Regions from separate parts of the Homo sapiens genome. Here regions 1 and 3 are each linked to region 2. Evidence: fine-mapped expression QTL. A gene starts in region 2. Each other region holds a variant in brackets. All regions are shown on one strand. Distances are from middle to middle. Region 1 has its middle 120 kb from the start of JCAD. Region 2 holds the start of JCAD (junctional cadherin 5 associated). Region 3 has its middle 34 kb from the start of LINC02644.

Evidence for each region. PIP is the estimated chance that this variant, and not a neighbour inherited with it, causes the effect. A credible set is the group of variants that fine-mapping cannot tell apart.
Region 1: its variant is the best candidate, but not a certain one, in a credible set for the expression of JCAD in fibroblasts (GTEx, PIP 0.75).
Region 3: its variant is the best candidate, but not a certain one, in a credible set for the expression of JCAD in aorta (GTEx, PIP 0.77).

What each region holds. Positions count from the first base shown.
Region 1 is chr10:30,181,390-30,184,058 of GRCh38, reverse strand. No RefSeq gene overlaps it. Among named protein-coding and RNA genes, the nearest start is that of JCAD, 120 kb to the right of the region's middle. The variant A/G (reference allele first, on the strand shown) is at 1,604.
Region 2 is chr10:30,058,150-30,060,818 of GRCh38, reverse strand. JCAD (junctional cadherin 5 associated) reads left to right here and starts at 1,233. Exons shown (of 4, transcript NM_020848.4): 1 at 1,233-1,337. It overlaps LOC101929256 (a long non-coding RNA gene), which reads right to left and starts at 1,981. Exons shown (of 4, transcript XR_001747405.2): 1 at 1,793-1,981. RefSeq lists a silencer at 1,121-1,290.
Region 3 is chr10:30,687,830-30,690,498 of GRCh38, reverse strand. No RefSeq gene overlaps it. Among named protein-coding and RNA genes, the nearest start is that of LINC02644, 34 kb to the left of the region's middle. RefSeq lists an enhancer at 2,459-2,669. The variant C/G (reference allele first, on the strand shown) is at 1,222.

The DNA.
Region 1 (2,669 bases), 120 kb before region 2:
GTTAAGCCCTAGACACATGGAAATGCCAGCTGATGGAAAGTGCAGGATTTGGAAATGAGGGGGTCCCAAGCCAGACCCATCTATGAGGAATCCAGATTTGGAAACCAGCTACCTATCAACAGACGCTGTTCCCTGAAAAGCATTGACTTGAAATTGGTGGTCTCTGGGAGGAGGGAGGACACATTCTTCCCTGCTCATCTGCTCTCCCTCACCGCACAGAGGCTGGGACTCAGGTGTGGATCCCTGAGCACAGCTGGGAAGCCCAGCACATCTCTCTCTCCTGCATGGTCCCATACCAGTACTCGGCATTCTCATTTTCAGCCCTTTTTGCTCCCATGAAGAGGAGAGTCTGATGAATGAATTTCCCCAATGATGCCAATTACTGATAAAGCATAAAGTATTATTCTCTTTGAGATGATGGTGTCTGAAGAGGGAAGAAGAGAATGGCCTTTACGTGTAGAATTTCAGGCATGGGCGACCGGAGGGAAAGTGGGCTTTTGATACACACACACACACACACGCACACACACACACATGCACCATGCCCCAGTCCTGCAATCACACATAGGATGCATGCATATATCACTCTCTAGAATGGGCAGCGCTGGCTGGCTCTTCTCTCAGGAGGAGAAAATACCAAGGGCATTGTGGAAACTCCTCTTTCTCCCCATCCTCACTAAGTTTGATGCAGCTTTGATGCTTCCTTTTCTTGCTCGCTAAACTGCAGACTTGTTGAGGCTCCTGTCTTCACACTGCAACTCCTCAGCACATGGGGTACACAGGGCGAGGGAGAGTGAAGGATGGCAAATTCCTCCAGGAAGGCTGGTGTGAGTCTGGCTCTGAGGCCTAGCCCTCCCTGGCACCGGCGGACCCGGGCTGGCCAGGTCCTGCTAGTGCAGATGGCATTCCCAGCCTTTGTGCTCGTATCTCCTCTGTCGCGGGCTAGGTGTTCCTCGGGTGATGGAGCCCACCTCCCCAGCACCATAGCCCTGAAAGCCACATTCTGAGTCAGAGAGAAACCAGGCTGGCAGCAGATTCCACAGCCGCGGCTGTAGGACTGTTCTGTTTGCTCTATTAAGGGACTCTCCTCTTAACTGCCGGGTGAGTCAGAACATTCCATTTCTTCTTCCCTCTCCTGTCTGTCCAGCCCGGCCAGAATTCCTGTCTGAATTCTTCTTCATTAATAGTGATGTGCTCTCCACCCGGAAGTTCCTAAGAGCTCATTTCAGTGGATAATGATTGTTTTTGCAGGAGGGACCCCGATGGTTTTTCCATTTCTGTTTCCATAATATGTACCGAAACCCACACTTCATTGAAAGCAGATGGTGAAAGCGGCCCTCGACATGCGAGGAGACGCCAGGCTACGACGCCTCTGATTTGTCTGCCTTCTGGGCAGCCCTGGCACCGATGGGGGCCAGGACACTGGAGCCCTGGGACTCTGGACATGAGAGCAGGAAGCTGGATAATGGAAAACAAACGGCGGGCCTGGGACGGGAAGATCAAAAGGGAAGGGAAGAAAAAAGCCAATGGAAGAGATGACATCGGGACTCTCCAAGCCTCTCATTCCCGTGTCCTGAGTCTTACAGTGTCAAATTCTTGGGAA[A/G]GTAGTGTGCATCAGGCAGCCGCCCCTCCAGAGGAAATTGGTACTAAAGCCTCAGCTCCAGAGACCTGGGCCTGACCCTCAGCTTCGTCTGCCTCTGTGTAATGTAATGAAAAGCATATTCTCCAACACATCTTTCCCAAGCACATAAGCCCGATTGCTCTGTCTCCAAAAAAGGCAAAGAGGAGGCTTGCTGATTTCCCAACAAAAAACCGTCACCACCGAAGCCTGCTGTGGGAAGCAGGCTTTCCACAATTCTGCGTTGTATAGAGGTCCCAGGCACTGGCCCTATTAAGTCCCTTAACCCTAAGCTTCCAGAATGCAGACCTGGACTCTACTCGCTCAGCATATTCCTCGGTGACTGTTGCTCATCCGAAGCCACTGTCCCTGTAGCTCTGCTGGGCGCGCTGGATGGAGGGGGCAGACACCCAGCTCTCCTGGGCAGTGGAGAAACCTGCACAGCCTCAATCCTGACCCCAAACTTCAGTACAGCTGTCTACTGGTGCCAGAACCTTCTGCACCTTGACCCCAAGCCCATTACTCTACATGCACCTGGACTGGGGTCTCATCTTGGGGCCGAGTGGAGGGGTGGAGGTTTAGCCCTTACCTGGGGTGGGGAGGCCTGATAAGGCAGGTCTTCCTGGAAACTTTTTTTTTTTTTTTTTTTTTTAGTGAATATTGGAAGCATCTCTTGGGAGAAAACTTATCCCAAGAAACAAGGGAGTCTGGCATGATAACTTTTTTTTTTCTTTAAGAGATGGCATCTCACTCTCACCCAGGCTGGAGTGTGATGGCCTGATCATAGCTCCCTACAGCCTCCAACTCTTGAGCTCAAGAGATCCTCATCCCTCAGCCTCCTAAGTAGCTGGACTATAGGTGCATGTCACCACACCAGGTAATTTTTTTTATTTTTTTGAGACGAAGTCTTGCTCTGTCGCCCAGGCTGGAGTGCAGTGGCGCAATCTCGGCTTACTGCAAGCTCTGCCTCCCAGGTTCACGCCATTTTCCTGCCTCAGCCTCCTGAGTAGCTGGGACTACAGGCGTCCACCACCGTGCCCGCCACCACACC
Region 2 (2,669 bases):
AGCTTGCCATCTGTGCCCGTCCCTGAGCCCACTCCTCATCTGTAAAGTGGTGCCCATATCATCAAACTGTGATGAGGATTAAAAGAAATAATACATAGGAAGGGCTCAGATGTGGTAATAGAGCAAAAAAAGTTAGTTATTGGTGTTTCGACAGCAAATACAGTCCTAAAATCATGATGTGGCTAAGTAGTTTTCTGAAAACTAATTTGGCAAGGTCACCAGTCTGCTGTGCCATCCATGTTTTGTCTGGGTGGACTTAACTAACATTCCCTGTCTCTCCCCAATGCATCAGCAATATTTCACATTTTTTGTCTTCTGTCTGCCTTCCAAAATTATGAAAACGTTCGCCCTGAGCAGACCCAGGCAGCAGTCTAATCTTTCTGCCCCTTCCCGCTGTAAGAGAAATATGGAGTGGGTTTGGGGTTACCCAAATGACCCCAAATGTTCATTCTGGTCTGAACTCTCCCACTGACCTCCTCCTATCTCTCCTCCTACCCCTGCCCTGTAGGCAAATCCTGCTCCTGTCATCAGTTTCCTCCTCTGCCACAGGAGAGTATGGGCCAGCTGATCTGAAGGTGGCTTCCAGACTCCTTCAGACTTTTTTTTGAAAGAAGTAAATCCCAAGCTGTTGTCACCATCACTGTTTTCTGCTCTTCATAATATCGATGTGTTATGTGGGTGCGTTTGTGTGTGTGTGTGTGTGTGTGTATAGCCATACTGTGTTCCCATGTATGTATGTATATGTGTCAGTGTGTTTGGCTGCATCTGTGCGTGACTGTATATGGGTGTGTTTGTGTGCACCTGCGTGTGACTGTATTTGAGTGTGTGTGCACTTGTCTGTGACTGTGTGTGCACCTGTGTGTCCTGTATATGTGTTTGTGTGCGCCTGTTTCCTGTGAGTGTGTTTGTGTGCATCTGTGTGTGGGTGTATATGAGTGTGTTTGCATACATCTTTGTGTGTTTGTGTGATATGAATATGTTTGCTTTCTGTGTATCTGTGAGAGTGTGTGTGTCTTTGGACATTTCCACAGGGTTGACGTGGCCCAAACCCAAGTGACAAGAAAAGAGGGAATGGTGGTCAGCTCACTTGTGCCTTCTGCGCGACCCACGCAGGCGGACCCCAAAAGCCTAGGAAGCTCGTGGCCTGGATACCGCCCTCAGCGCAGAGGAGGCAGCCCCGGGCGGTGGGCGGGGCGGGCCCGGGCGGTGGGCGGGGCGGACGGCGGTTCTCCGGGCATGCTCGGCCTCGGCGGCTGCAGGCGGGGCGGGTCGCGCTGGTCCCCGGCCGGCCGGAGCGGCGGCGGTGGCGGCGCGAGGCGGCATGAGGGAGCCGCTCGGTAAGTCCCGGCGTCTAACCCTCCTGGCTCCCACCGTCCATTAGGGCCGCTCCCACGGCGCTTCGCGGGCCTCACCCGCAGCCTCCCGCACTCCCCCCAACTTCTCCAGCTGGGACGTCGCTCCGGTTCCAGCCACCCTGGCGGTGGGGGATGTCTGCACCCCCAGTCGCAGCCCCGCCTGGGCCCCCCGCGCGGTGCCTAGCCCGGCAGCCTCGGGGTGGAGGGCGCCTGCCAGCCCGGGAGGGGCGTCCCCTCCCCTCAGGTGCCCCGCTCGGAGCGCGGGGGTCCCGGGGCGGGCACCGCGGGCCGCGGCTGGCGTTAGCGCTCGCGTCGCCCCTCGGCGCGCGGAGGGCCTGGGGGGCCGGGGTCACTCACTCCCCTCTCGAAGTCGCCCTCCCCAGCCTGTGTCCACCAACCCCTCCCGCGCCCTCGCGCCCAGATCTCGCGGACCTCACCCCAGAGCTGACAGCCGCCGCGCTGGGTCCCCGAGGTCCCAGTTCCCACGCTGCCCCGGCCGTCTGGACTGCCCGGGACGGTGGGGGGCTCCCGCCGCGGCCCCGCTCCCGCTCCGGTCTCTGCGCGGTCTGCGCTGGGGATTAGGGCGCTAATCGCAGCTGCCTCCCAGCGAGTGCCCGGGGCCGCCCGGCTCCTGGCTGCGCGTGGGATGGGAGAAGGGCAGGAGCCCCGCCTAGGAGTGCTGTAAATCCCGTTAATTATCTCATTTATGGGATCTGGAACCCGCCCTCCTAGGGTCTCTGCGCTCAGATCTCCGCGGGCACCCTCTACTTCCCCCGTCTCCAGTCGGGGTCCGTTCACCCCCAAAATGCCAGGGTTTGCCTCGATGCCCTGGCCACAGTGGGGCCCAGCACTAGCTGCTAAAAAGCGCCCCTCTCGCTTCCGTCAAGAAGCAGAGCGCCTGGGATTCTTCTGGGCATTTGTAAAGAAGCTGTGATTTCACTACTGAAGAAGAAAATAAAAACGAGAACTTTAGGCCAGCGCTACCTGGGCATGCCCTGGTGTTTGGTCATCCACGCGCTTAAGGAGTAGAGAGGCCTTGGGGGAATTAGCTTGGGCACATCACCTCCCCACACCTACACCCACTCTCCCACCCCCGCACGCACTCCACCCGCCTCCCGTGTCCTCATTCCCTCCCCAAATCTAGTAGCTTGGTCTTAGTCTTGGGGAGAGGGGTGGGGCGGTGCAGACCACACAACTCCCAGGGTTTCCTGTCCTGACAGTTTAATGTGATGTTTCTCCCACAACTTGTTTTCCTTCTCCGGTCTTTTGTCTTTTCAGATTTACAAGGAATAGATAACCCAGAGATTGAGGGCT
Region 3 (2,669 bases), 630 kb before region 2:
CCCATCTCTCCAAAAACAGAAAAAGAAAAAAAATTAGCCAGGCTTAGGGGTGAACACCCATAGTTGGAGCTACTCAGGAGGCTGAGGTGGGAGGATTGCTTGAGCCCAGGAGTTCAAGGCTGCAGTGAGCTATGATGGCACCACTGCAGTCTAGCCTGGGTGACAGAGCAAGACACTGTCTCTAAAAAACAAACAACAACAAAAAACCAAAGCAGGTGGGCAGCTGGATTTGGCAGTGGCCATCGCTTGCTAACCCACAGGCTAGATCACTGTTCCACATTTGTAATAAATGCTTTGCTGATTGGCATTCCCTGCTTAGCTAGTTTAGTGATTATATTATACTTTTATATTTCTGTTCAGTGGTGGTTGTATTATTTTTAACCTTTTAGTGGTCACTGTCAATAGTAGGGGCTCCCAGTGCCTAGTATTTGATAAGTTTCCCGGATTGGACATTTTAATCAAGAGATAAAAGGCAATTTCTGCATATTGCTCTTTTATTTTGCATATTTCTTTGACTTGTATATTGAAATATTTAGTTCAACATTCATTTGCCATAATTTTACTTTAGAAATCGTTTGTGATTATAAGAAATAATGTCAGCTTTTACCTTATTGGAAACTGATAACATACAATTTAAAGTTCACCAGGCCCAAGATCATGTTGATTTGCTGATGTATAATAATCTGCTTTCAGAGTTATAAGCAAAATCACTTAGTTCACAATTCCAATTGGATGGCATCCCAAGGGCTTAGATTCAAGAACAAATGTGATATTGGGAGTCCCCAATTTAGTATGTTATCAAATGAATTAGGGCTTGATAGTCTAATCGGTCTTGACCAAAACTTCATTTTTTGAAGATAACAACAAAGGCGGTGATTACAGTATGAATTAGGAAAGCCATAATAGAAAGAAAACAATTTAGCTGAGGAAGAAAAGCAATCAGAATTAGGATTTAGAGATTCTGAGAGCAAAGCCTTCTGGCTTCCGGTAGGTATGTTTTTGTTATTCAGTCTTCTTAGAAAGGTTTCCAGCCTGTCCAGCTTCAGGTCCCATTCTAACTGCGTATCTGGTCTGGCTTCGATATCTAGGCAAGCAGAAACCGTCAGTGAGACAGCATCACTAAGGCCTCTTCTGATCAGGCTTGGCGTGGCCGAGGCCTTGGCGACTTACCTTCCAGGGGTTTGGAAACGGGTGTGGTGCCTCTTGTTTTACCGCAAATGG[C/G]TGAGGCTACTGGGGTTATGGCAGTAGGTGACGCCAAACCTGTGGAACACACAGACGAGCTACTGAGCATCTCAGGGTCACTTCTGGAAATCTCCGGGACCCTGACCGATCTCCAGGAGTCCCAGGGTAGACGGCACAACATATAAGAATTTACACACATGCAGGCACACACACACACATTTCACACGTACCACGACTGTGGGACAACCAACTGCAGATGTAGACAGGATTTTATTATTTCCAAGGACTGTAGTGGCTGACGAGCTGATAATCCAAAATGAACGGTGGAGATGTGGGAAAACATGTCCATGACACGTAGACTTGAGCAAATGCAGCTGTGAGTTCTGAGGCCCTTTGGAGATGGTGGGGGCAGCTGAGAGTGCATTGGTGCCATCTGCAGAATGAACTGTGTCACACTTGCCAGCAAGTGGCCCCCCACACTGGAGCTCTCCTCCAGGCTGAGGGGAGGGAGGGACAGTGGCCTTGGGGACATGACACAGACAGTAACCCAAGGAGGGTCAACCTTTCAGAAGAAACCACAGAGCAGGGCAGGTCTGTACCGACTACAAGTTTTGGAAGGTCCAGTCCATCTCCCGTGTGGGCAGAAACAGGAAATGCTTTTCCTCGTATATTTACCGAGAAGCAGGGTGGGGAATCTTTAAAAGGGAAAGTGGTGAGAGACACATGAAAGGGAAAGGGAGGAATTCCTGCATGGAGAAAGTATCCAGCTAGAAGAAGAAAACTTAGTAAAGAGAAGGATGAGTATTGCTTCCCTAACCTAAGTGGAAGGCATTGGAAAGAAAACTAATTAGTGCATTTACAAAAAACCAAAATGAGATGTGAATGTTCTCTGTACTCATTTGTAATAAATGTGAAATCCTTAGATGACATTGCCACTTAGATGACAATGCAACCCTGGACGAACAACATCGACAGGATATGCAAATCACTATCACAAGGAAAACCAAATGAATGAATGATTCTGCCCCTTCCTCCTGTGAACGGGAGAAGTATTATAGCATAAAAAATTTAATAAAAATACAATTAAATGGTTTAAAACTCAAGTTTTAGGTAATATCCTAGAAGTACTTCTCATTTTATATATGTTTGATTGATGATGTCATTAAAAGTTTTAAAAGTTGTTTCAATTGCCAGAACTGCAAAGGGTTTATATCCATGAGAAATTAAACTTTCTTGAAAGATTTAAAGATAAATAAAATCTGGTATCACAGGGTGGGGAGGGAAATCATCATTCACTAGAAGGATGCTTAAGAGACATCAGAGGAGTTCATTAGCAAAGAGGCCGTTAACTCCGCAGCTAATAAACAGGACTGGCTCTGAAGGCTGGTTTCCAAAGCAACCGGAGAAATCCATCCCTATCTTGGCCGGTGCCGGGCAAATCCGCTGCCATGGCTCCCCCTGCTGGCGGTTCAGGCAGTGGCACTATC